Linked DNA regions of Homo sapiens. The protein of the gene in region 1 interacts with the protein of each later gene in a biochemical or structural test. Each region holds a gene or a part of one and is shown in the gene's direction. Other genes may lie near its edges.

What was found.
Region 2: the proteins of FKBP5 (region 1) and FES form a complex in vitro, tested with the Homo sapiens proteins (one study listed by BioGRID).
Region 3: the proteins of FKBP5 (region 1) and USP49 form a complex in vitro, tested with the Homo sapiens proteins (one study listed by BioGRID).

The regions. Positions count from the first base shown.
Region 1 is NC_000006.12:35,615,916-35,622,915, reverse strand, and holds part of FKBP5 (peptidyl-prolyl cis-trans isomerase FKBP5), read left to right. Parts: intron 1-2,641; coding exon 2,642-2,784; intron 2,785-3,705; coding exon 3,706-3,820; intron 3,821-7,000. UniProt on the Homo sapiens protein: Immunophilin protein with PPIase and co-chaperone activities. Component of unligated steroid receptors heterocomplexes through interaction with heat-shock protein 90 (HSP90).
Region 2 is NC_000015.10:90,887,504-90,894,539, forward strand, and holds part of FES (tyrosine-protein kinase Fes/Fps), read left to right. Parts: intron 1-1,802; coding exon 1,803-1,940; intron 1,941-2,013; coding exon 2,014-2,133; intron 2,134-2,336; coding exon 2,337-2,459; intron 2,460-2,588; coding exon 2,589-2,775; intron 2,776-2,862; coding exon of another isoform or gene 2,863-2,897; coding exon 2,898-2,981; intron 2,982-3,478; coding exon 3,479-3,688; intron 3,689-4,050; coding exon 4,051-4,173; intron 4,174-4,554; coding exon 4,555-4,608; intron 4,609-5,203; coding exon 5,204-5,322; intron 5,323-5,596; coding exon 5,597-5,691; intron 5,692-5,787; coding exon 5,788-5,911; intron 5,912-6,150; coding exon 6,151-6,308; intron 6,309-6,432; coding exon 6,433-6,555; intron 6,556-7,036. UniProt on the Homo sapiens protein: Tyrosine-protein kinase that acts downstream of cell surface receptors and plays a role in the regulation of the actin cytoskeleton, microtubule assembly, cell attachment and cell spreading.
Region 3 is NC_000006.12:41,801,340-41,808,375, reverse strand, and holds part of USP49 (ubiquitin carboxyl-terminal hydrolase 49), read left to right. Parts: intron 1-1,364; 5' UTR 1,365-1,392; coding exon 1,393-2,748; intron 2,749-4,365; coding exon 4,366-4,570; intron 4,571-7,036. UniProt on the Homo sapiens protein: Deubiquitinase that plays a role in several cellular processes including transcriptional regulation, cell cycle progression or innate immunity.

The DNA.
Region 1 (7,000 bases):
GTTATTATTTACATTTTGCAGGTGAGGAGACTAAGCACAGAGATTAAATAACTTGCACAAGTTTACACAGATAGTAAAGGGCAAACTTGGTATTCAAATCCAGGTATTCTGAAGTTAGAGTATGCTGCATTTTTGACCTCTAAAATGTACATCCTCCTTTCTACTGATGGAGAAAGAGGATGAAGATATATAATAAATGAAAAAGTAGTTTAGAACTGAATGTCTAGTTTGCTGTCATTTGTATTTTAAATTTTTTTAAAAAGTGACAGCACACAGTAGGATACCAAAGAAACGTAACAGTTACTTATAAGGAGCAGATGGATGGCCTTTCAGCTTTCACTTTCCATCTCTTTCATGGGTGTTTTAATAATAGGCATGTATTACTTGATTTTTTTTTTTTTTTAAGAGACAGGGTCTCGCTCTGTCACCTAGTCTGGAGTGCAGTGACATAATCATTGCTCACTGTAGCCTCTTACTCCTAGGCTCAAGCTCTTCTCCTGTCTTAACCTCCAAAGTAGCTGGAGCTACAAGCATATGCCACCATGCCGCACTAATTTTTTAAATTTTTGTAGAGATGGAGTTTCACTATGTTGCCCTGGCCGGTCTTAAAACTCTTGGGCTCAAGTGGATGCTCCTGCTTTGGCCTTCCAAAATGCTGAGATGAGAGGTATGAGCCACTATTCCTGGCCACTTACATATATTTTTAACTGAAATAAATGTAGCTGACATTTTGAAAAGTTGTAATATTTAATGAAGATTAAGCTAAAGTCATGAATAAAAAATGGTTTATCTATCCCTGCTTACATACTGTTATGTAGGGTTTCCCTTGTCCTAATATCCTACCACCAGCTCACTTCAAATTCACTTCCTCTGGGGTTCATCTCTTATCTGATCCTACTTTTGAATACTTACATTTTTGTTTTTGTTTTTTGAGACAGGACAGGGTCTCCACTCTGCTGCCCAGGCTGGAGTGCAGTGGCATGATCTCAGCTCACTGCAGCCTTGACCTCCTGGACTCAAGTAGTCCTCTCTCCTCAGCCTGCTGAGTAGCTGGCAAGCACCACCACGCCTGGCTCATTTTTTAAATATATTTTTTTGTGGAGATGGGGTTTCACCATGTTGCCTGGGCTGGTCTCAAACTCCTAAGCTCAAGGGATCTGCCCGCCTTGGCCTCCCAAAGTGCTGGGATTACAGCTGGGATTACAGGCGCGAGCCAACGTGCCCAGCCCCCAGATACTTAATATTTCTGATTGACAGAGTACCTCATTTGTCATTTAGCCTTTTTTTTTTTTTTTTTGGAGACAGAGTCTTGCTGTGTCGCCCAGGCTGGAGTGCAGTGGCATGATCTCTACTCACTGCAACCTCCGCCTCCCAGGTTCAAGCAATTCTCCTGCCTCAGCCTCCTAAGTAGCTGGGATTACAGGCACGCACTACCATGCCTGGCTAATTTTTGTATTTTTAGTAGAGACGGGGTTTCACCATGTTGGCCAGGCTTGAATTCCTGGCCTCAAGTGATCCGCCTGTCTTGGCCTCCCAAAGTTCTGGGATTACAGGCGTGAGCCACCATGCCCCACCAAAATGTAATTTAGCCTTTTAAATGGCCTAAATTTTCTATTGTTTCCGAAAGGACTTGATACTGCTTACAGTAAGATAATGATGCACATCATAGGAACTATAAACATTGAGATTACAATTATATAGCCTAATATAGTTCTACAATTGAGCAGTAAATTTAACTTAGTTTCCTGGAAGTAGGCAAAAAATAAAATATTTTAAGTTCTGTAGTTGTGGTTTGACAAAAAGACACATATGTTTTTGTTTAAAGGAACATTTTTCTGATTCTAAATTTTGAGAAGAAATGTGTTTCATGGACCCTTTTATGCAATTTATCCTGTTCTGGTTACTTCTTGTTTTGTTGTTTTTTTTGTCTACCCAACTAAATTATAAGCTTCCTTAGGACACACTCTATTTTTCAATACTATTTTTGTTCTATCTCTGCCTAGAAAATTTGCGCTTATTATAGTTGAAATGATAAATTAGGCAACAATTGCAACATAGCCATATTTCATGGATAATGTTACCACCAGTTTTCAAAGACTTAATTTTTGAGTAGTTTAGGAATTTATATTACTTTCATCCCTTTCAGCAGGGAATCCTTTTTGAGACAGGGTCTCACTCTGTCACCCAGGCTAGAGTGCAGTGGCATAATCATGACTCACTGAAGCCTCAATCTCCTGGGCTCCCAGGCTTAAGCTGTCCTCCCACCACAGCCTCCGGAGTAGCTGGGACTACAGGTGTGCACCATACCCAGCTGTGTTCTTTGGTTCTTTGGGGTGTTTTTTTTTTTTTTTTAGAGATGAGGTCTTGCTGTGTTGCCCAGGCTGGTGTCAAATTCCTGGACTCAAGCAGTCCTCCCACCTCAGCCTCCCAAAGTGCTGGGCCGATCAACAGGGAATCTTTTGTGATAGCCTTCAAAAAAAATAATTTATTTATTTGTATGTAGCACTCTGTCATCTTGTAGCCCATACTTTCTAGCTGAGTATGTAGTATGAAAAACTGGAAATTAGAACTTTGGTTTTATGAAAGTTAAATCTTTTTAAATAGGGCTTATAGCTTTCAACTACCTTTTCCTTTCCCTTAGGCCAAGTCATCAAGGCATGGGACATTGGGGTGGCTACCATGAAGAAAGGAGAGATATGCCATTTACTGTGCAAACCAGAATATGCATATGGCTCGGCTGGCAGTCTCCCTAAAATTCCCTCGAATGCAACTCTCTTTTTTGAGGCAAGTATGTGTGTGATGTTGCCTTGTCAGCATCTGCTCTACAATAGGAATGGCTTTGAAGCAACAGGCAGTGGGAAAAGGAGCTAAGCTTGCTATAGAGAATCAGATCCAACTTACTTATTTTGGAGCATGGCTTCTTGAATTGTTTCCCACAAACCCAAGGGTGCGCGTGCCAGTGCTTTCTTAGAAACGTGTTTCTAGCACAAAAAGGTCATATCCAAATAAACAAAAGACGCTACACTTAGAAATAAAGATTCTGGTCCATGGTGTGAGTGTGACATACTCAAAATTGACCAGAGTACAGGATGGAAATGTTGGCGATAAATGTTGAAATATGCCTATGTCACGTTGCGGGGTATTTACATATTATAAAAATTTATGTGTCACAGATCTCACTTCTCTAGAAGCCGTTGGTGGTGATAAAACATTATTCATCCTATGTTGAATTACATATATTTGGCAAAACTTGATTTTTAAGAACCACCCCAGCTAGGTAAAATACACCTTTAATCAGTCGTAGGTCACATCCATGAGATTTATTCTTACATTTTGAGAAGGGAACTCCATAAACCCAGGATGGGAAAGTTGTGGCCTCAAACAAAATAGTTCTACACCAGCACCTTGTAGCTCTGGCTTTTTGCCCACAGGGTAGTTTTCCTAGTATTTCCTATCTTTGCACTGCAGTCCCTTAGGATATAGTTCTAGACATTAGCATTACATGAAATTCTTTCCAAGTATGGAAAAGTATAGTGGGTTTTTTTTTTTTTGCTACTTTTCCAATAATTAAGATGCATAAATGAATGTATATATTTTAAAACAGCTTTATTTTGTAAAATGAAATAATTGGTTGCCCTTGCCTTCACATATGTTCAGTTGGCTTTATTTGGTCTTTTCTCAGCTGAATTCCTTTTTTCTTTCTAGATTGAGCTCCTTGATTTCAAAGGAGAGGATTTATTTGAAGATGGAGGCATTATCCGGAGAACCAAACGGAAAGGAGAGGGATATTCAAATCCAAACGAAGGAGCAACAGTAGAAAGTAAGTATTAAAGTAAGAGGGAACTAGTCCTTAAAAGTTGGGCCATTTATGTGGACGAAATGGAGACTTAAAAAAAAATGTTTGTAGAAATGAATATATCGGCTGTGCGCAGTGACTCACGCCTGTAATCCCAGCACTTTGGGAGGTCGAGGCGGGTGGATTGCCTGAGCTCAGGAGTTTGAGACCAGCCTGGCCAGCATGGCGAAACCCCATCTCTACTAAAAATACAAAAAACTAGCCAGGTGTGGTGGTGCACGCCTGTATTCCCAGCTACTCGGGAGGCTGAGGCATGAGAATCACTTGAACCCGGGAGGCAGGGGTTGCAGTGAGTCGAGATGGTGCTACTGCACTCCAGCCTGGATGACAAAGCAAGACTCTGTCTCAAAAAAAAAGTATTGAATATATCTCAAAGATAGTCTTAGCTGGGCACAGTGGCTCATGCCTGTAATTCCAGCACTTTGGGAGGCCGAGGCAGGAGGATCTCTTGAGCTTAGGAATTCGAGACCAGCCAGGACAGCATAGTGAGGCCCCATCTCTACTAAAAAGCATCAAGAGAATTAGTCAAGTGTGGTGTCACGTCCCTGTAGTCCCAGCTACTTGGGAGGCTGAGGTGGAAGAATCACTTGAGCTCTGGAGATGAATGCTACAGCAGAGAGCCGTGATTGTGCCATTGTGCTTCAGCCTGGACAACAGCAAGATTCTGTCCAAAAAAAAAATAGTTTCAGGTTCAACATTTATTTAATAATTTTATTTAGTAAATATTAATTCAACATCTACGTGTCAGGCATGCTACCAGCCTCTACAAACTCAAAAATGAATACAAAGTAATTCCATCCACAAGAAATTCTCAATCTGTGGACTCTCTGGTGTGCCAACAACTATATTAGTTGCCTGATATGTTTGTTCATTTATTTCTCACAACCTTAAGAGGTAAAATTTCTTGTCCCCAGATGAGAAAAGTTAATTCAGAGATGTTAAATAAATTGCCCAGGGTTACAGAGTTACTAAACAGAGCAGTAGATTATAATCCCTTTTAGGACTCAAATACATCTCATCAGCTGTCATCAAGATTAAAAAATAGTTCATCATTTAGATCAATATTGGATAATAATGTTCATTCTATTCCATATCAGGAGACCTAGGTTCAAGTCCTGCTTTGGTGTTTATTGAGTAACCTGAAGCTATTCCGTTTCTTCATTTGCTAAGTGGGAGTAGGGGCAGCTCTGAGGACTGAGATAGCTAACTCTTCTTCCCTCCCGGAGCAAATTATATGTACCACTGTGTATACTACTTGTCACTTTACATTGTAATCAGTATTTGCCCATTTCTCCCAGTATACTTTGAGTGCTTGAGGACCAGAATCTTTCTTCATCCTTTTGTGTTCAGCATTTCCTGCAGTGCGTGACACACATTTGGTGTTCAGTAAAGGCTTTCTGCATGGATAAGTGCTTGAGAAGTGTCATTAGTGAGCTGAAATCCTTCAAAAGAGAGTTGTGAGAAAACAGAGAAATACTTCCATTAAGAACAAAAATCAAATCATTCAACAAGGATGGGAACATGAACTATTATTATAAAAGGTCTGTTTAAAATAATTATTTCAAAAGCCAGGTGTAATGGTGTGCACCTGTAGTCCCAGCTACTTGGGAGGCTGAGATAGGAGGATCACTAGAGGCCAGGAGTTCGAGGCTATAGCGTGCTATGGTTACACCAGTGAATAGCCAGTGCACTCTAGCCTAGGTACCATAGTGAGACCTTGTCTCCTTAAAAAAAAAAAGTAAAGAGTTCATTTAAACAGAAAACAAGAATAGCTGAGTTTCTTTCTTTTAAAGTATATACTATTTTCAACCCATATTTCATTTCTACGAGTCTGGCAAATCAGTTTAAATTCTGTTGTTTTGGGAAGCAGTTACAAATATTATTTATCCCAAATTGCCATTTGGGATAAGTTTTTGAATACATGAAGAGCTTTAAATGTAGAATACCAGGGAAATAGCTCCAGACTAGGAGTTGGGAGATAGGGTTCCAGCCTCAGCCCTGGCCTCAGGCTGGCTTCAACTAGACTTCACCTCTGGGCGTTAGCTTCCTTCCTATGCAGTGAGGCAAGCTTGAACCTCTTGATTTTTAAGGTCCTACTAGCCCTAAAACTCCATCATAGAATTCTAAATATTTACAAAAGTTGTAGGAATGATAGAAAATCATCTTCACTATATTAGTAAGCACTTAAGCTTGTCTATAATGTGTATTTTAAATTTTTCTTATGAAAAATTTCAAATGTATGTACAAAGGTAGAGGTTTACTCCTATGGATACAGGCACACCCTAGATTCAGTAATTTATAATATATATTTTTAAACTGGAGGGTTTTGTCAACTAAGAGGAAAAACTTTTCCCAATTATAGACAATATCACAAAATTACCGCTGTGGAGATGACTTTAGAGCAGACTAAATTAAATCAGATCTTGCTTTTGGTAATACTTGCGATGGGAGTCAATTTTTTTTTAACTTTTTGTTTTGAAATAATTTTAGAATTACAGAAAAGTTGCAAAACTAGTATAGCGCGTTCCCTTATATGCTTTACACAGCTTCCTCTAAATGTTAACATCTTACCTAATCACAGTACATTTATCAAAATCAGGAAGTTAACATTGATGTAGTACCAGTAACTGTTTTCCAGATCTTATTTGAATTTCACCAGTTACTACACTACTGTCGTTTTCTGGTCTAAGATCAAACTCAGGATCCAGCATTGTATTTACTTTTTTTTTTTTTTTTTTTTTTTTTGAGATGGAGTCTTGCTCTGTCATCCAGGCTAGAGTGTAGTGATGCTATCGCAGCTCACTGCAACCTCCACCTCCTGGGTTCAAGCAATTCTCCTGTCTCAGCCTCCCAAGTAGCTGGGACTATAGGCGCACGCCACCATGCCCGACTAATTTTTGTATTTTTATTAGAGACAGGGTTTCTAACATGTTGGTCAGGCTGGTCCTCAAGCTCCTGACCTTGGGTGATACACCCGCCTCAGCCTCCCAAAATGCTGGGATTACAGGCATGAGCCACCGCACCCAGCCTACTCTACTATTTTGAATACAACTGACCGTTTTGTAGAATATCCCTCAATTTGGGTTTCTGGGATGTTTTTAGATTGAGGTTATGCATTTTTTGAAAATACCACTGAAGTGATGT
Region 2 (7,036 bases), on another chromosome or scaffold:
GGGCCAAGGATTGGAAACAGGCAACTTACCTCTGAATTACACTATTCCAGGGTCTCATTATTCCAGGGTTTTATTACATTCATTGAGCACTGTTCTGGGCTCTGGATTATACCAGAGAACGATGGTAGACAAAAACATCTGTCCTCAGGGATCTTTCGTGTTAGTGGAGTGAGGATGTGAGGAGCACTAAGAGCCATGGAGAAAAATAAAGCAAGAGAAGTGGATCGGGACCTGGGAGCACGGAGGCAAGGGAGGAGGTGACAGTTGTCCATAGAGTGATCTGGGAAAGCCTCTTGAGAGGTGACATTCAAAGAGGCCCCTGAGAGGGGTACGGGAGTGAATCATGGGGCTATTTGGAGAAAGACCATTCCAGAAAGGAGGACAGCAATTACACAGGCCTTGAGGTAGGAGAGTACCAGGGACTAATAGCCAGGAACCAGTGGTGCCTCTGAGAGTGAGGGAGGGGGAGAGTCATACACGAGGCTGGAGGAGGCAGGCGTCAAGGGCTACTGGGTGATAGAGGGTCTAGCAGGGCCATGGTGAGGACTTTGGCTCTGGGTGAACAAGAATGGCATGATCTGACCTCTGTTTTTTTGTTTCATTTTGTTTTAACTTTTTTTGAGTCAGAGTCTCGCTCTGCCGCCCAGGCTAGAGTGCAGTGGCATGATCTCGGCTTACTGCAACCTCCGCCTCCCAGGTTCAAGTGATTCCCCTGCCTCAGCCTCCCGAGTAGCTGGAACTACGGGCATGCGCCACCACACCCAGCTAATTTTTGTATTTTTAGTAGAGATGGGGTTTCACCATGTTGCCCAGGCTAGTCTCTAATTCCTGGGCTCAAAGCGATTTGCCTGCCTCTGCCTCCCAAAGTGCCGGGATTACAGGCATGAGCCACCATGCCCAGCCCTGACCTCTGTTTTAATAAGGCCACTCTGGCTGCTGTGCTGCAAATAGACTTCAGGGAGCAAGGACAGAAGCTGGGAGGCCAGAGAGCAGGCTCTTGCCATAATCCAGATCCAAGCTTTTGGCCACTAGGACGGGGAGGTAGCAATGGAGGTGAGGCGCGGTCAGGTCCTGGAAGGTGAAGCCAGTGGGATTTCCCTATGGATTGGAAGTGGGGCGTGAAATAGAGGAGTCAGGGGTCACTCTGGGGATTTGGCCTGGAGCAGCTGGAAGATGGAGTGGCTGTTAACTTATGTAGGGAAGGCTGTGGGAAGAAGAGGTTTAGGAGACAAGGATAGCAGTTCATTTATTTATTTATTTATTTATTTATTTATTTATTTATTTATTTATTTAGAGATGTAGTCTCATTCTTTCGCCAGGCTGGAGTGCAGTGGCGCGATCTTGGCTCACTGCAACCTCCACCTCCCAGGCTCAAGCGATTCTCTTGCCTCAGCCTCCCGAGTAGCCAAGTAGCTGGGACTACAGGCATGTGCCACCATGCCTGGCTAATTTTTGTATTTGCTTTTTCAGTAGAGATGGGGTTTCACCACGTTAGCCAGGCTGGTCTCGAACTGACCTCAGGCAATCCACCCGCCTCGACCTCCCAGTGTTGGTATTATAGGCGTGAGCCACTGTGCCTGGCCCACTGGATCCTTATTACAACTGCCAGTGTCCCTCTTATATATATCAGGAAATAGAAGATTAGGGAGAGGTTAAATAATTTGCCTAGAGTGGCATGGCTAGCTCGAAGTGAGGCAGGGGTCAACCCCAGCCCTGACTCCAAACCCAGGGTCCTAGGCCTGAACTGCCCAGCCTTGCCCAGCCTGAGGCTCCCCTGACTGGGGATCCCGTCTCGGGGGCAGGAAGGAGATCCTGCAGGAATACCTGGAGATTAGCAGCCTGGTGCAGGATGAGGTGGTGGCCATTCACCGGGAGATGGCTGCAGCTGCTGCCCGCATCCAGCCTGAGGCTGAGTACCAAGGCTTCCTGCGACAGTATGGGTAAGCCCCGTCCTTGCTCCTGCTGGGCCCAGGGCTGCTGGCCTGTCCACTGACGGGGCGCTGTCCCCCACAGGTCCGCACCTGACGTCCCACCCTGTGTCACGTTCGATGAGTCACTGCTTGAGGAGGGTGAACCGCTGGAGCCTGGGGAGCTCCAGCTGAACGAGCTGACTGTGGAGAGCGTGCAGCACACGTGGGTGGTGGCTTTGCACCTGGGCTGCGGCGGGGCTCCCAGCAGACCACGAGTGTTTATGTAGGCAGGGCTAGGTCGTGGAGACTGTCCACACAGAGCTGTCACCAGGTGGCCGGGCTTGCTTGGCTCTACAGGGATGCACTGGACCTGGGTTGAGGGGGCAGGAGGGCTCGGTTCTAATGCTGCCCTTCTCTTGGGTGCAGGCTGACCTCAGTGACAGATGAGCTGGCTGTGGCCACCGAGATGGTGTTCAGGCGGCAGGAGATGGTTACGCAGCTGCAACAGGAGCTCCGGAATGAAGAGGAGAACACCCACCCCCGGGAGCGGTGAGTGGGCCCCTGCCTGCAGCAGCCTCCTGGGCCTCCCTCCCTCCTACCTACCCTAACTGCTGCTGGCTACCCGCCGCAGACCGAGCCCTTATTCTCATCCACCCTCCCACCCGCCCCTGCCTGCAGGGTGCAGCTGCTGGGCAAGAGGCAAGTGCTGCAAGAAGCACTGCAGGGGCTGCAGGTAGCGCTGTGCAGCCAGGCCAAGCTGCAGGCCCAGCAGGAGTTGCTGCAGACCAAGCTGGAGCACCTGGGCCCCGGCGAGCCCCCGCCTGTGCTGCTCCTGCAGGATGACCGCCACTCCACGTCGTCCTCGGTGAGCTGCCCCATCCGCGGCCGCTGCCCGCCACCGGCCTGCCCACCTGGGGCTGCGCTCCTCATTTTCGCCCTCCCCCTCCCTAAGCCTGGCCACCCGCTGACGTCTGTCCCTGGCCTCAGGAGCAGGAGCGAGAGGGGGGAAGGACACCCACGCTGGAGATCCTTAAGAGCCACATCTCAGGAATCTTCCGCCCCAAGTTCTCGGTGAGTGGCGCCCAGCCTGGGCCCCCCTACTGTTGTGTTTCGAGTTTAATCACTGGGATGTCCTAGAGAGGAGGCTCTGCCCAGGCTGCTTGTATTGGGAAGTTCCTCTCTTCCCTGGGATTCCAGGCTGCAGATGTCCCCAGACCCTGCCCCTGTGACCCCTCCCTTTCCATCGCCCCAGTGTGCTAAAGGGACCAGCAACCTCGACTATTCCATGGCTCTCCCTGCTTCAGGAGCGGGTTGGGGGCCTGTGGCCTGGAGGAGGAGGCACCAGCTTGGTTTGGGGTCTTCCTGCCTGGGCTTCCCTTCCCAGCTCTGCCCAGCGTGAGCCTGGGCCAGTCCAGTGCCCACTCCAGGGGCCTGTGGATGGCTCTGCATGCCACTCCATGGTTGTAAGGGCTGAGGGCATATAGGGGGGAGAGAGAGACCCCCGGCTGCCCCCACGGCCTCTTCAACAAGGTGGTTAAGTGACTCCTCCTCGATCCTCCCTTGCCCAGCTCCCTCCACCGCTGCAGCTCATTCCGGAGGTGCAGAAGCCCCTGCATGAGCAGCTGTGGTACCACGGGGCCATCCCGAGGGCAGAGGTGGCTGAGCTGCTGGTGCACTCTGGGGACTTCCTGGTGCGGGAGAGCCAGGGCAAGCAGGAGTACGTGCTGTCGGTGCTGTGGGATGGTCTGCCCCGGCACTTCATCATCCAGTCCTTGGATGTGAGTGGGGCTGGGACCCGAGCCTTCCAGGCCTCACTCTTCCCCTCCCTTCCCTTCCCCAAGGGAAATGGCCTTTCAGGGTAGGGGGTAGCTGCCAGGTCTTGGATGCCTCCCTAGCAGGGCTGGCTGGAAGGGGCCACAGAGACCACCCTGTCCCTGCAACAAAATAGAGGCTTAAGTGTGAGTCCTCCCCTGGTGGGGCAGCAGGATGTCATGTGCCATCAGATGGCATCTTTTCTGGAGGTCTCTCTGCCCCTGGTCCTGGGCAGGCCCTTTCTCCCCTGCTGCTCTCCCTTTCCCCCTCCCAGGGCTCACGCCCCCTCAGAATGGAGGCTGCTGACCCCGGGTCCCCTGCCCTGCAGAACCTGTACCGACTGGAAGGGGAAGGCTTTCCTAGCATTCCTTTGCTCATCGACCACCTACTGAGCACCCAGCAGCCCCTCACCAAGAAGAGTGGTGTTGTCCTGCACAGGGCTGTGCCCAAGGTGAGCCTGCACCCAGCCTGGCCCATGCCACCTGTGGCAGGGCTTGGGGAGTGTGGGTCAGGCCCACCCAGCGTCTGAGCAGAAAGGGCTTTCCAGGCCCTCCGTCTACATACAAGATGCAGAGTGAGTGACCCTCAGGGCCAGCCTTGCTCTAGGTTTGGAATGTCAGGGCCACTCCTATGCCATGGGCTGTACACACCAGGTTGGTGCTTACCTGGTCAGGGCACCTGCCTGGACCCCGTAGTCATCTCAGTGTGCTCCCCACGTGGTCCCACCCCTGGTCACATATGGAGGCGCCAAAAAATGGAGGACACAGCCCTTCTAAGGGCCCAGCACCCCTTTTCTTCAGACTTCTGATCCCCTGTCTCCTCTCTTCCCCAGGACAAGTGGGTGCTGAACCATGAGGACCTGGTGTTGGGTGAGCAGATTGGACGGGTGAGTGCGCCTCTGCTGGCCTCCTTGTCGCTGGCGACTTCTCCTGAGTCGCGCCTGGGCCCCCTGCCCTACCACCCAGAGACCTCCCTGCCCCATCTGATTCCCCACTTGTACCCCGACTCCCTGCCCAGCCCCCACCACACACCATCCTCCAGGAAACGGGACAGTACCTACCCTGAAAACTCCCAGCAGACAGCTCTGCCAGCACCCTGACCTCATCACCCCCACCCAGGCCGCCCCCATCGAGCTCTTGTGTGCACGCAGGGAGACACCCTGTTACTGTAAGCCATAAGATACCTGTTTAGGGAAGAAGTCACTGTCCTAAAAATCAGAATGCTTTTCAAACCCAAGGGAGAGTGATTTTTGGATTTCCATGTCACTTCTCTCAGGAAGGGTGGCACATCGGAGGCAACTTTCCCTGCCTGCCCCATGTGCTCTCTAGGTTCCCCAGCGAGGGTCAAACTCCCAGAGAGCCTGGGTGAGGGGTCCGAACACGGGGGCCCCTCACCCAGGGGTAGGAAGCAGAATGGGTAGGAAGCGGAGAAGAGAACTGCGGGACTGGGAAGGCCGTGGTAGGAGCCCAAGACCGTTTCAGGGGAACTTTGGCGAAGTGTTCAGCGGACGCCTGCGAGCCGACAACACCCTGGTGGCGGTGAAGTCTTGTCGAGAGACGCTCCCACCTGACCTCAAGGCCAAGTTTCTACAGGAAGCGAGGTGGGTGATAAACTAATGATCACCACGGGTCCCGCATACACAGAGGTTACACTGCATGGCACAGTGTGAAGTGCTTGACCACCGTGGTGGTGTTTAGTCCTCGAGGCCCCCCATTGCGGGTAGTACCCCCTTATAGTGCCGAAGGGTAGAGGCTGCCCCAGGTCACACGTCCGGGTCTGCTGGCCTTGGAGGCCAAGCTCTTCTCCCATCATCCCTGGGGGGCCCTGGGGAGGCGGGCCTGGCCACGTAGATCCTGAGCAGCAGTGCCCTCCAGGATCCTGAAGCAGTACAGCCACCCCAACATCGTGCGTCTCATTGGTGTCTGCACCCAGAAGCAGCCCATCTACATCGTCATGGAGCTTGTGCAGGGTGAGCGCGGGGCGCTGAGCTCCAGGTAGGGCGCGCAGCCTGGTCAGGTGGCAGCCTTACCTCAGGAGGCTCAGCAGGGGTCCTCCCCACCTGCAGGGGGCGACTTCCTGACCTTCCTCCGCACGGAGGGGGCCCGCCTGCGGGTGAAGACTCTGCTGCAGATGGTGGGGGATGCAGCTGCTGGCATGGAGTACCTGGAGAGCAAGTGCTGCATCCACCGGTGAGTGGGCGGTGGCCACGGGCCCTGCCAACACCCCCGACCAGAGTCAAGAGGTACCTATACCCCTAGGGCCCCCCGCTGGACCATCAGGCATCAGCTCCAGAGGGGGAGTTGGCCTCTGTGGTAGACAGGGGTGCCCAGGGCCGGGAGCAGCTTTTGTCCTTGGCTTTCCTAGAGTGTTCAGCCAGGGCTGGGCAGGCGACTGTTGGCCAAATGAGCCCCTGCCCTGTCTCACCCAGGGACCTGGCTGCTCGGAACTGCCTGGTGACAGAGAAGAATGTCCTGAAGATCAGTGACTTTGGGATGTCCCGAGAGGAAGCCGATGGGGTCTATGCAGCCTCAGGGGGCCTCAGACAAGTCCCCGTGAAGTGGACCGCACCTGAGGCCCTTAACTACGGTACCTAGTCCCTGTCTACCCTGGACTCCATGGCCAGAGGCCAGGCCTGGGTCCTGCCGGCTGCCTCGCCCTGGCCCCAGGGAGGGTGCACTCACGCTGCCTCACCTCCTCGCCTCCTCTGCAGGCCGCTACTCCTCCGAAAGCGACGTGTGGAGCTTTGGCATCTTGCTCTGGGAGACCTTCAGCCTGGGGGCCTCCCCCTATCCCAACCTCAGCAATCAGCAGACACGGGAGTTTGTGGAGAAGGGTAAGCACCCTGTGATGACAGCAGCCTCAGGCTGCACCCTCTTCCAGATGCTCCAGCCGGACTCTTCTAACTCCCTTAATGCCAACCTTCCCACCAGGCAGAATAAGAATAACCTGGCCAGTTGCTCACGCCTGTCATCCCAGCACTTTGGGAGGCTGAGCTGGGTGGATCACTTGAGCCCAGGAGTTCAAGATCAGCTTGGACAACACAGTGAAACTCCATCTGTACAAAAAATACAAAAATAGACTGGGCACGGTGGCTCACACCTGTAATCCCAGCACTTTGGGAGGCCGAGGCAGGTGGATCACCTGTGGTCAGGAGTTTGAGACCAGCCAGACCAACATGGTGAAACCCCATCTCTACTAAAAATACAAAAATTAGCCAGGCATGGTGGCACGTGCCTGTAATCCCAGCTACTTGGGAGGCTGAGGTGGGAGAATTGCTTGAACCCAGGAGGCGGAGGCTGCAGTGAGCCGAGATT
Region 3 (7,036 bases), 6.2 Mb from region 1:
CCACAAGGCTTCTCTGATTATTGAATTGAAGAAGCATTATTGGGAGGGGGAAAAAAAAACATGCTTAGGATGTTCTACTGTTTTAAAAAGCATTTTCATATATATCAGCTGGAAGATTCGTTGCTTTTTTTTCTTTTGTTTCGGTAGTTTGGTTAAATATTATACCAGTAGCCACTTCACCTCTTGTCCTAAGTCAGATTTGTCCAGTTCTTTACTTACCTTTCCTTTCAGTAAAGAAGGTAAAAGTTTTCCCACCCTTACTGCAAGATGCAGATGTTCTTTTCAAAAAGACGGATGTTGGCTGGGCGCAGTGGCTCGTGCCTGTATTCCCAGCACTTTAGGAGGCTGAGGCGGGCAGATCATTTAGGTCAGTAGTTCGAGACCAGCCTGGCCAACATGGTTAAATCTCGTCTCTACTAAAAATACAAAAAAATTAGCCGGGTGTGGTGGTGCGCGCACCTGTAATCCCAGCTTCCTGGGAGGCTGAGGCAGGAGAATCGCTTGAACCAGGGAGGCAGAAGTTGCAGTGAGCTGAGACTGCACCACTACACTCCATCCTGGGTGACAGAGGGAGGCTCGACCTCAAAAAAAAAAATACATAAAAAACAAAAAATAAATTAAAAAACACATATACGGCTGTGCACGGTGGCTCATGCCTGTATTCCCAGCACTTTGGAATGCCGAGGTGGGCAGATCACCTGAGGTCAGGAGTTCGAGACCAACCTGGCCAACATGTTGAAACCCCGTCTCTACTAAAAATACAAAAATTAGCCGGGTGTGGTGGCGTGGCGTCAGTAATCCCAGATACTCGGGAGGCTGAAGTGGGAGAATCGCTTGAGCCCGGGAGGTGGAGGTTGCAATGAGCTGATATCCCGCCACTGCACTCCAGCCTGGGCGACAGAGTGACCCCGTCTCAAAACAAAACCACATATACAATGTTCCTTAGTCACGTCTCATAAAAATGATACTTTGTACTGGTGAGGACTTTCTTTCTCTTATTTCTATCTTATATCATGTTATCTCTGCTTTGAAAAACATTGCAATCGACCTAAAATTGACTTTTTATTTGAGTTTCTTCATCTCTCCCACTGGTATGTGAAACACCATAAAGTTTCAAATTTGTGCTAACCCTTCCGTAAGAGTCTTCCTTTTTAAGTAATTTAACTGTCCTGTAACTCTCTGCCTTTATACCAAATGTGCCTTTTTTTAACTTTCAAAGGAACCAATTTGGAGTTGAAAATGAATGAATCTAGAGTTGAAATATCAATTGCAAGCCTTTTACTTTTTTTTTTTTTTTTAAGGAAAATATTTTTCTAAAAGTGTTTTCTTTTTCTTTTTCTTTTTTGGGGACTCTGTCGTGCCAGGTTGAGAAAGTGGCGACTTCTATAAGACATGGATAGATGCAAACATGTAGGGCGGTTACGGCTCGCCCAGGACCACTCCATCCTGAACCCTCAGAAGTGGTGCTGCTTAGAGTGTGCCACCACCGAGTCCGTGTGGGCCTGCCTCAAGTGCTCCCACGTGGCCTGCGGCCGCTATATTGAGGACCACGCCCTGAAACACTTTGAGGAGACGGGACACCCGCTAGCCATGGAAGTCCGGGATCTCTACGTGTTCTGTTACCTGTGCAAGGACTACGTGCTCAATGATAACCCAGAGGGGGACCTGAAGCTGCTAAGAAGCTCCCTCCTGGCGGTCCGGGGCCAGAAACAGGACACGCCGGTGAGACGTGGGCGGACGCTGCGGTCCATGGCTTCGGGTGAGGACGTGGTCCTGCCGCAGCGCGCTCCTCAGGGACAGCCGCAGATGCTCACGGCTCTGTGGTACCGGCGTCAGCGCCTGCTGGCCAGGACGCTGCGGCTGTGGTTCGAGAAGAGCTCCCGGGGCCAGGCGAAGCTGGAGCAGCGGCGGCAGGAGGAGGCCCTGGAGCGCAAGAAGGAGGAGGCGCGGAGGCGGCGGCGCGAGGTGAAACGGCGGCTGCTGGAGGAGCTGGCCAGCACCCCTCCGCGCAAGAGTGCACGGCTGCTCCTGCACACGCCCCGCGACGCGGGCCCGGCTGCCTCGCGCCCCGCCGCCCTCCCTACCTCACGCAGAGTGCCCGCCGCCACACTCAAGCTGCGTCGCCAGCCGGCCATGGCCCCAGGCGTCACGGGCCTGCGCAACCTGGGCAACACCTGCTACATGAACTCCATCCTCCAGGTGCTCAGCCACCTCCAGAAGTTCCGAGAATGTTTCCTCAACCTTGACCCTTCCAAAACGGAACATCTGTTTCCCAAAGCCACCAACGGGAAGACTCAGCTTTCTGGCAAGCCAACCAACAGCTCGGCCACGGAGCTGTCCTTGAGAAATGACAGGGCCGAGGCATGCGAGCGGGAGGGCTTCTGCTGGAACGGCAGGGCCTCCATTAGTCGGAGTCTGGAGCTCATCCAGAACAAGGAGCCGAGTTCAAAGCACATTTCCCTCTGCCGTGAACTGCACACCCTCTTCCGAGTCATGTGGTCCGGGAAGTGGGCCCTAGTGTCGCCCTTCGCCATGCTCCACTCAGTGTGGAGCCTGATCCCTGCCTTCCGCGGCTACGACCAACAGGACGCGCAGGAATTTCTCTGCGAGCTGCTGCACAAGGTGCAGCAGGAACTCGAGTCTGAGGGCACCACACGCCGGATCCTCATCCCCTTCTCCCAGAGGAAGCTCACCAAACAGGTCTTAAAGGTGGTGAATACCATATTTCATGGGCAGCTGCTCAGTCAGGTATGTGTGTGCCTACCATGACAATGAGAGGCTTGTATGTTAGCTTGGGCTTCCTGTGAGTGCCTTCCCCGGGTTATTGGGCTAATAAGAGTAGCCCACATTTGCTGTGATTATGCAATTTGGAGGGTGGCCATTATACCTTTCATTCTGCTGTACATTATGATGGCCTTTTGGGGAAACTTGCCTAGTGTCTTTCCGGCCAGATTTTTAGTTTAACTTGCCACATCGCTTAATTTTCAGTGAATATCTTTAATTGTTATTGAAGATAGGGGTAATATAATATTCTCATTGTTATAATTAAGTACCCATTGTTGGTGTGCCATCCTTTGATCAATTTGAGGGAACAGAGTTTGCTTGTAACCCTGGTTCCATAATAGTTTGAAAGAGCAATCTCCCTTCTTTACATACAGGGAAGGTAGGTAGCTGGGAGCATGCTAAAGGCCAGTGCAAGCCTCCTTCCTGTTCCCCATTACCTTTTATTTCCTGCATCTTTAGCCATGTAACCTAAGCAAAAATGCTTAGACAGGGCCTTGCGAGAATATGCAGAAAGAGTATTTCTATAGTTAAAAAAAGGCAGGTGTGCCGGGCACGGTGGCTCATGCCTGTAATCCCAGCACTTCAGGAGGCCAAGGTGGGTGGATCACCTGAGGTCAGGAGTTAGAGACCAGCCTGGCCAACATGGTGAAACCCTGTCTCTACTAAAAATACAAAATTAGCCGGGCGTGGTGGCGCATGCCTGTAATCCCAGCTACTTGGGAGGCTGAGGCAGGAGAATTGCTTAAGCCCAGGAGGCGGAGGTTGCGGTGAGCCGAGATTGTGCCATTGGCACTACAGCCTGGGTGACAGATGGAGACTGTCTCAAAAAAAACCAAAAAACAAACAAAAAAACGTGGTGGGGGGTGGGTTGGTGAGCAACTTAAGAGTTTCAGGTAAAACCTCTACACTATGTGTCTTGGTTTTTAGGGCTTTGAAAGAATGATGAATGGGATGGAAAGGGAAAGTTTAATTAGGCTTTTGTTTTTGAGCATGTAAAAGGGGGAGTATTTATCAGCACTTCTTCTGTCTCCCCTCCCCTTAGGAAGAAAGGTGCACCTGGGAAGGTTATAGTGGGAATGGAGGTCTAATCACAGCACTTTGAGGCTCTGCAGACAGAGGGGTTCAGTGTAGGGCTTCTGCAAGTAACAAAGGCAAAAAGAGAGGCATGCTGGGCCCCATGGAAGGTCTGAAGTCAAGAGGAGGAATGCCAGGGTGAGGGAAGCAGGCAGGGACCTGCAAATCTGTGTCAGACTGATCCCTTGAGTGACTGCATGATAACTTGCAGTCTGTACTACTGTACTATTGAATGGTAGAGCATATTTTGGGAGAGGTGAAAAGGGGGGTTAGTATAGTCTCTATGCAGTATGGTTTTTAAATTCCAGCTAGCATCCCATAGTTAGAAATGTACATCAGAAATAATATACTCTAATTCTTTTAAAGTTATGTTTATTATTTTAATATTACTATTTTTTGAAAATTATACACTTAGTTTTGATAAAGTGTGTCTTTTATGAAGCAAGTAAAACTGTACACAGGAAGCATGGAAGTTATATAATCTGTAAATCAATCTTTTCATTCTAGGTCACATGTATATCATGCAATTACAAATCCAATACCATTGAGCCCTTTTGGGACCTATCCCTGGAATTCCCTGAACGCTATCACTGCATAGAAAAGGGGTTTGTCCCTTTGAATCAAACAGAGTGCTTGCTCACTGAGATGCTGGCCAAATTCACAGAGACAGAGGCCCTGGAAGGGAGAATCTACGCTTGTGACCAGTGTAACAGTGAGTGCTGTGTGGAGGAGGGGGCGTAGTGGGGAAGAATAATTGGAATATCAGTTTAAGGTGCTGCTTTGTCCTCTTTAGTCAAAAGTAACACTAATGATATTGAATGGTTCTAAAGCATCTTTTAAAGATCTTTTTCTCCCATTTTTCTAAAAACAAAAAACATGGACTTGTTTTAATTATGTATTAAAAAACAAAACAAGGCTGGGCGTTGTGGCTCACGCCTGTAATCCCAGCATTTTGGGAGGCCAAGGCGGACAGATCACTTGAGGTCAGGAGTTTGAGACCAGCCTGACCAACATGGTGAAACCCTGTCTCTACTAAAAATACAAAAATTAGCTGGGCATAGTGGCAGATGCCTGTAATCCCAGCTACTCGGGAGGCTGAGGCAGGAGAATCGGTTGAACCCAGGAAGCGGAGGGTGCAGTGAGCCAAGATTGCGCCATTGCACTCCAGCCTGGGCAACAGAGCAAGACTCCGTTTCAAACAACAACAACAACAACAACAAATGAAACAAAGACCTAGGAGTTGATTGACCTCCTGATTGACATTAGTTGTCATCTTGGAAGGGATTTTAAAGTTGTGGCTCCTGAAATGGGGACTCTGAGAATGTTAGTACTTAGCTTCTTAGTGCTGTGGGGCTGCTGCTTAAATTCATGAATGTAGAGTCTGACAGTTCTTACTTAATCTAAACCCAGATGGTATAGCCTTTCTGAAGGGTGCGATATCAGAAAAGCAAGCTTTTGTACTGAACTGGTAGACTTAATGTCTGTCAAAAGTGATGCTAAAGATTGGTACAGTGGAACCAAGAAAGCAAGTCTTAAGGTGCATTGCTCAGTGGCAGCTTCATGAAATATTTTCTGCATTTTGTTTTTATTGTTCACATGCCTGAAAAGTTCACATTTCAGAGAGGGTCATACGGAAGTATTTCTGTGTTGTCTGTAATTTTAAAATGGAACTCTTACATATGGTTACAGAGGCATGTTATCAGGGTCCTTCCATCTTGCCACACTAACACTTAATGCTTCTGCTAATCCAGTATGGACAGAGGAAATGCAGAACAAATATGTGGATGCTTATGTTTGGGGTTTGTGGCATATATAGATTTGGAAACTAAAAGTATAAAGTTAATGGACTGTGCAGAGACCTAGAAATCAATTTTCAGTCACATAATAGTTTAGATTACCAGTTTTGAAGAAAAAAAAAATCTTAGGCCAGGTGCAGTGGCTCACGCCTGTAATCCCAGGACTTTGGGAGACCCCAAGGTGGGCGCCACTGCACTCCAGCCTGGGTGACAGAGCGAGATGCTGTCTCAAAAAAAAAAAATAAATAAAAAATAAATAAATAAATAAATAAATAAATAAATAAATAAATAAAATAAAATAAAATAAAATAAAAAATAAAATAAAATAAAATAAAATAAATTGTGGGAAACCTGTTCCGCTCTTTGAAGAATCAGAACAAAAATCAAAAGTCAGGCTTGAGGCCAGGTGTAGTGGCTCATACCTGTAATCCCAACACTTTGGGAGGCCAAGGCAGGAGGATTGCCTGAAGCCAGGAGTTTGAGACCAGCCTGGTGGCATAGCAAGACCTCTTTTAGGGAAAATAAAAACAAAAACAAAAACCACAAAGTTATGCTCGATATCATTTTGCCATTTCAAAACAAAATTTGAAATTTTATACCTGGTTAACTATAGACTCACCTATCCTGTTCCATTTTGAGATACAGAGTCAGGTGAATCAAATTGTTTCATTAGAGTAATATTTAAAAAAAAAAAAACAGTGATTCCTGAAGCCTTTTACTTGTAAGGAACAAAAGAATATTAACAGCTTTAACTCCATCATTTTTGGATATGATAGATTAGGCAAGAAATAACTTTTGTTTATCTTTACAAGAAAGGATTGTTCTTTGGTTGTCAGATATGCCAATTTATCAGGATTTCTCTAGGCAAGTACAAATAATGGCAGAGAAGGAAACCTATGGTGAGGGGATGAGATGCATTGATCTGTTGCCTGTGAAGTTTCAAAACTGTCAGTCTTCTACCTGTCTTCCTGGCCAGCTTAATGAAATGGAGACAGAACTGATCAATCTCAGTTGAATCAGTAATTTCTTTTTCTTTGTGAATTTCATTTTAGGGAAACAAAGCCTGACTCTATATTGTCTTCATCTTAGCTCACATACTCCCTCTGCTGAAGGTGGCAGTCACTGCCAGGATTCCTAGCCAGAGCTGCAGTAATTTTCAAAAAAATGGTGAATAGGAATATAAAATAAGGCCAAGCCCCTCTGTGAATTCCATTTCTGTTCATGCCCCCACGTATTGTGACGACTACACCCTGGTAAAAGCTTCTCCTATGGCACACTCATTCTGATGCAGTCTATTATGAGAAGTTACACCTCCACATCCTATTGTCACAGAAAGCTCTGTGATACATCATCTGGCTGTGATTTGCTACCTTTCATGAGTA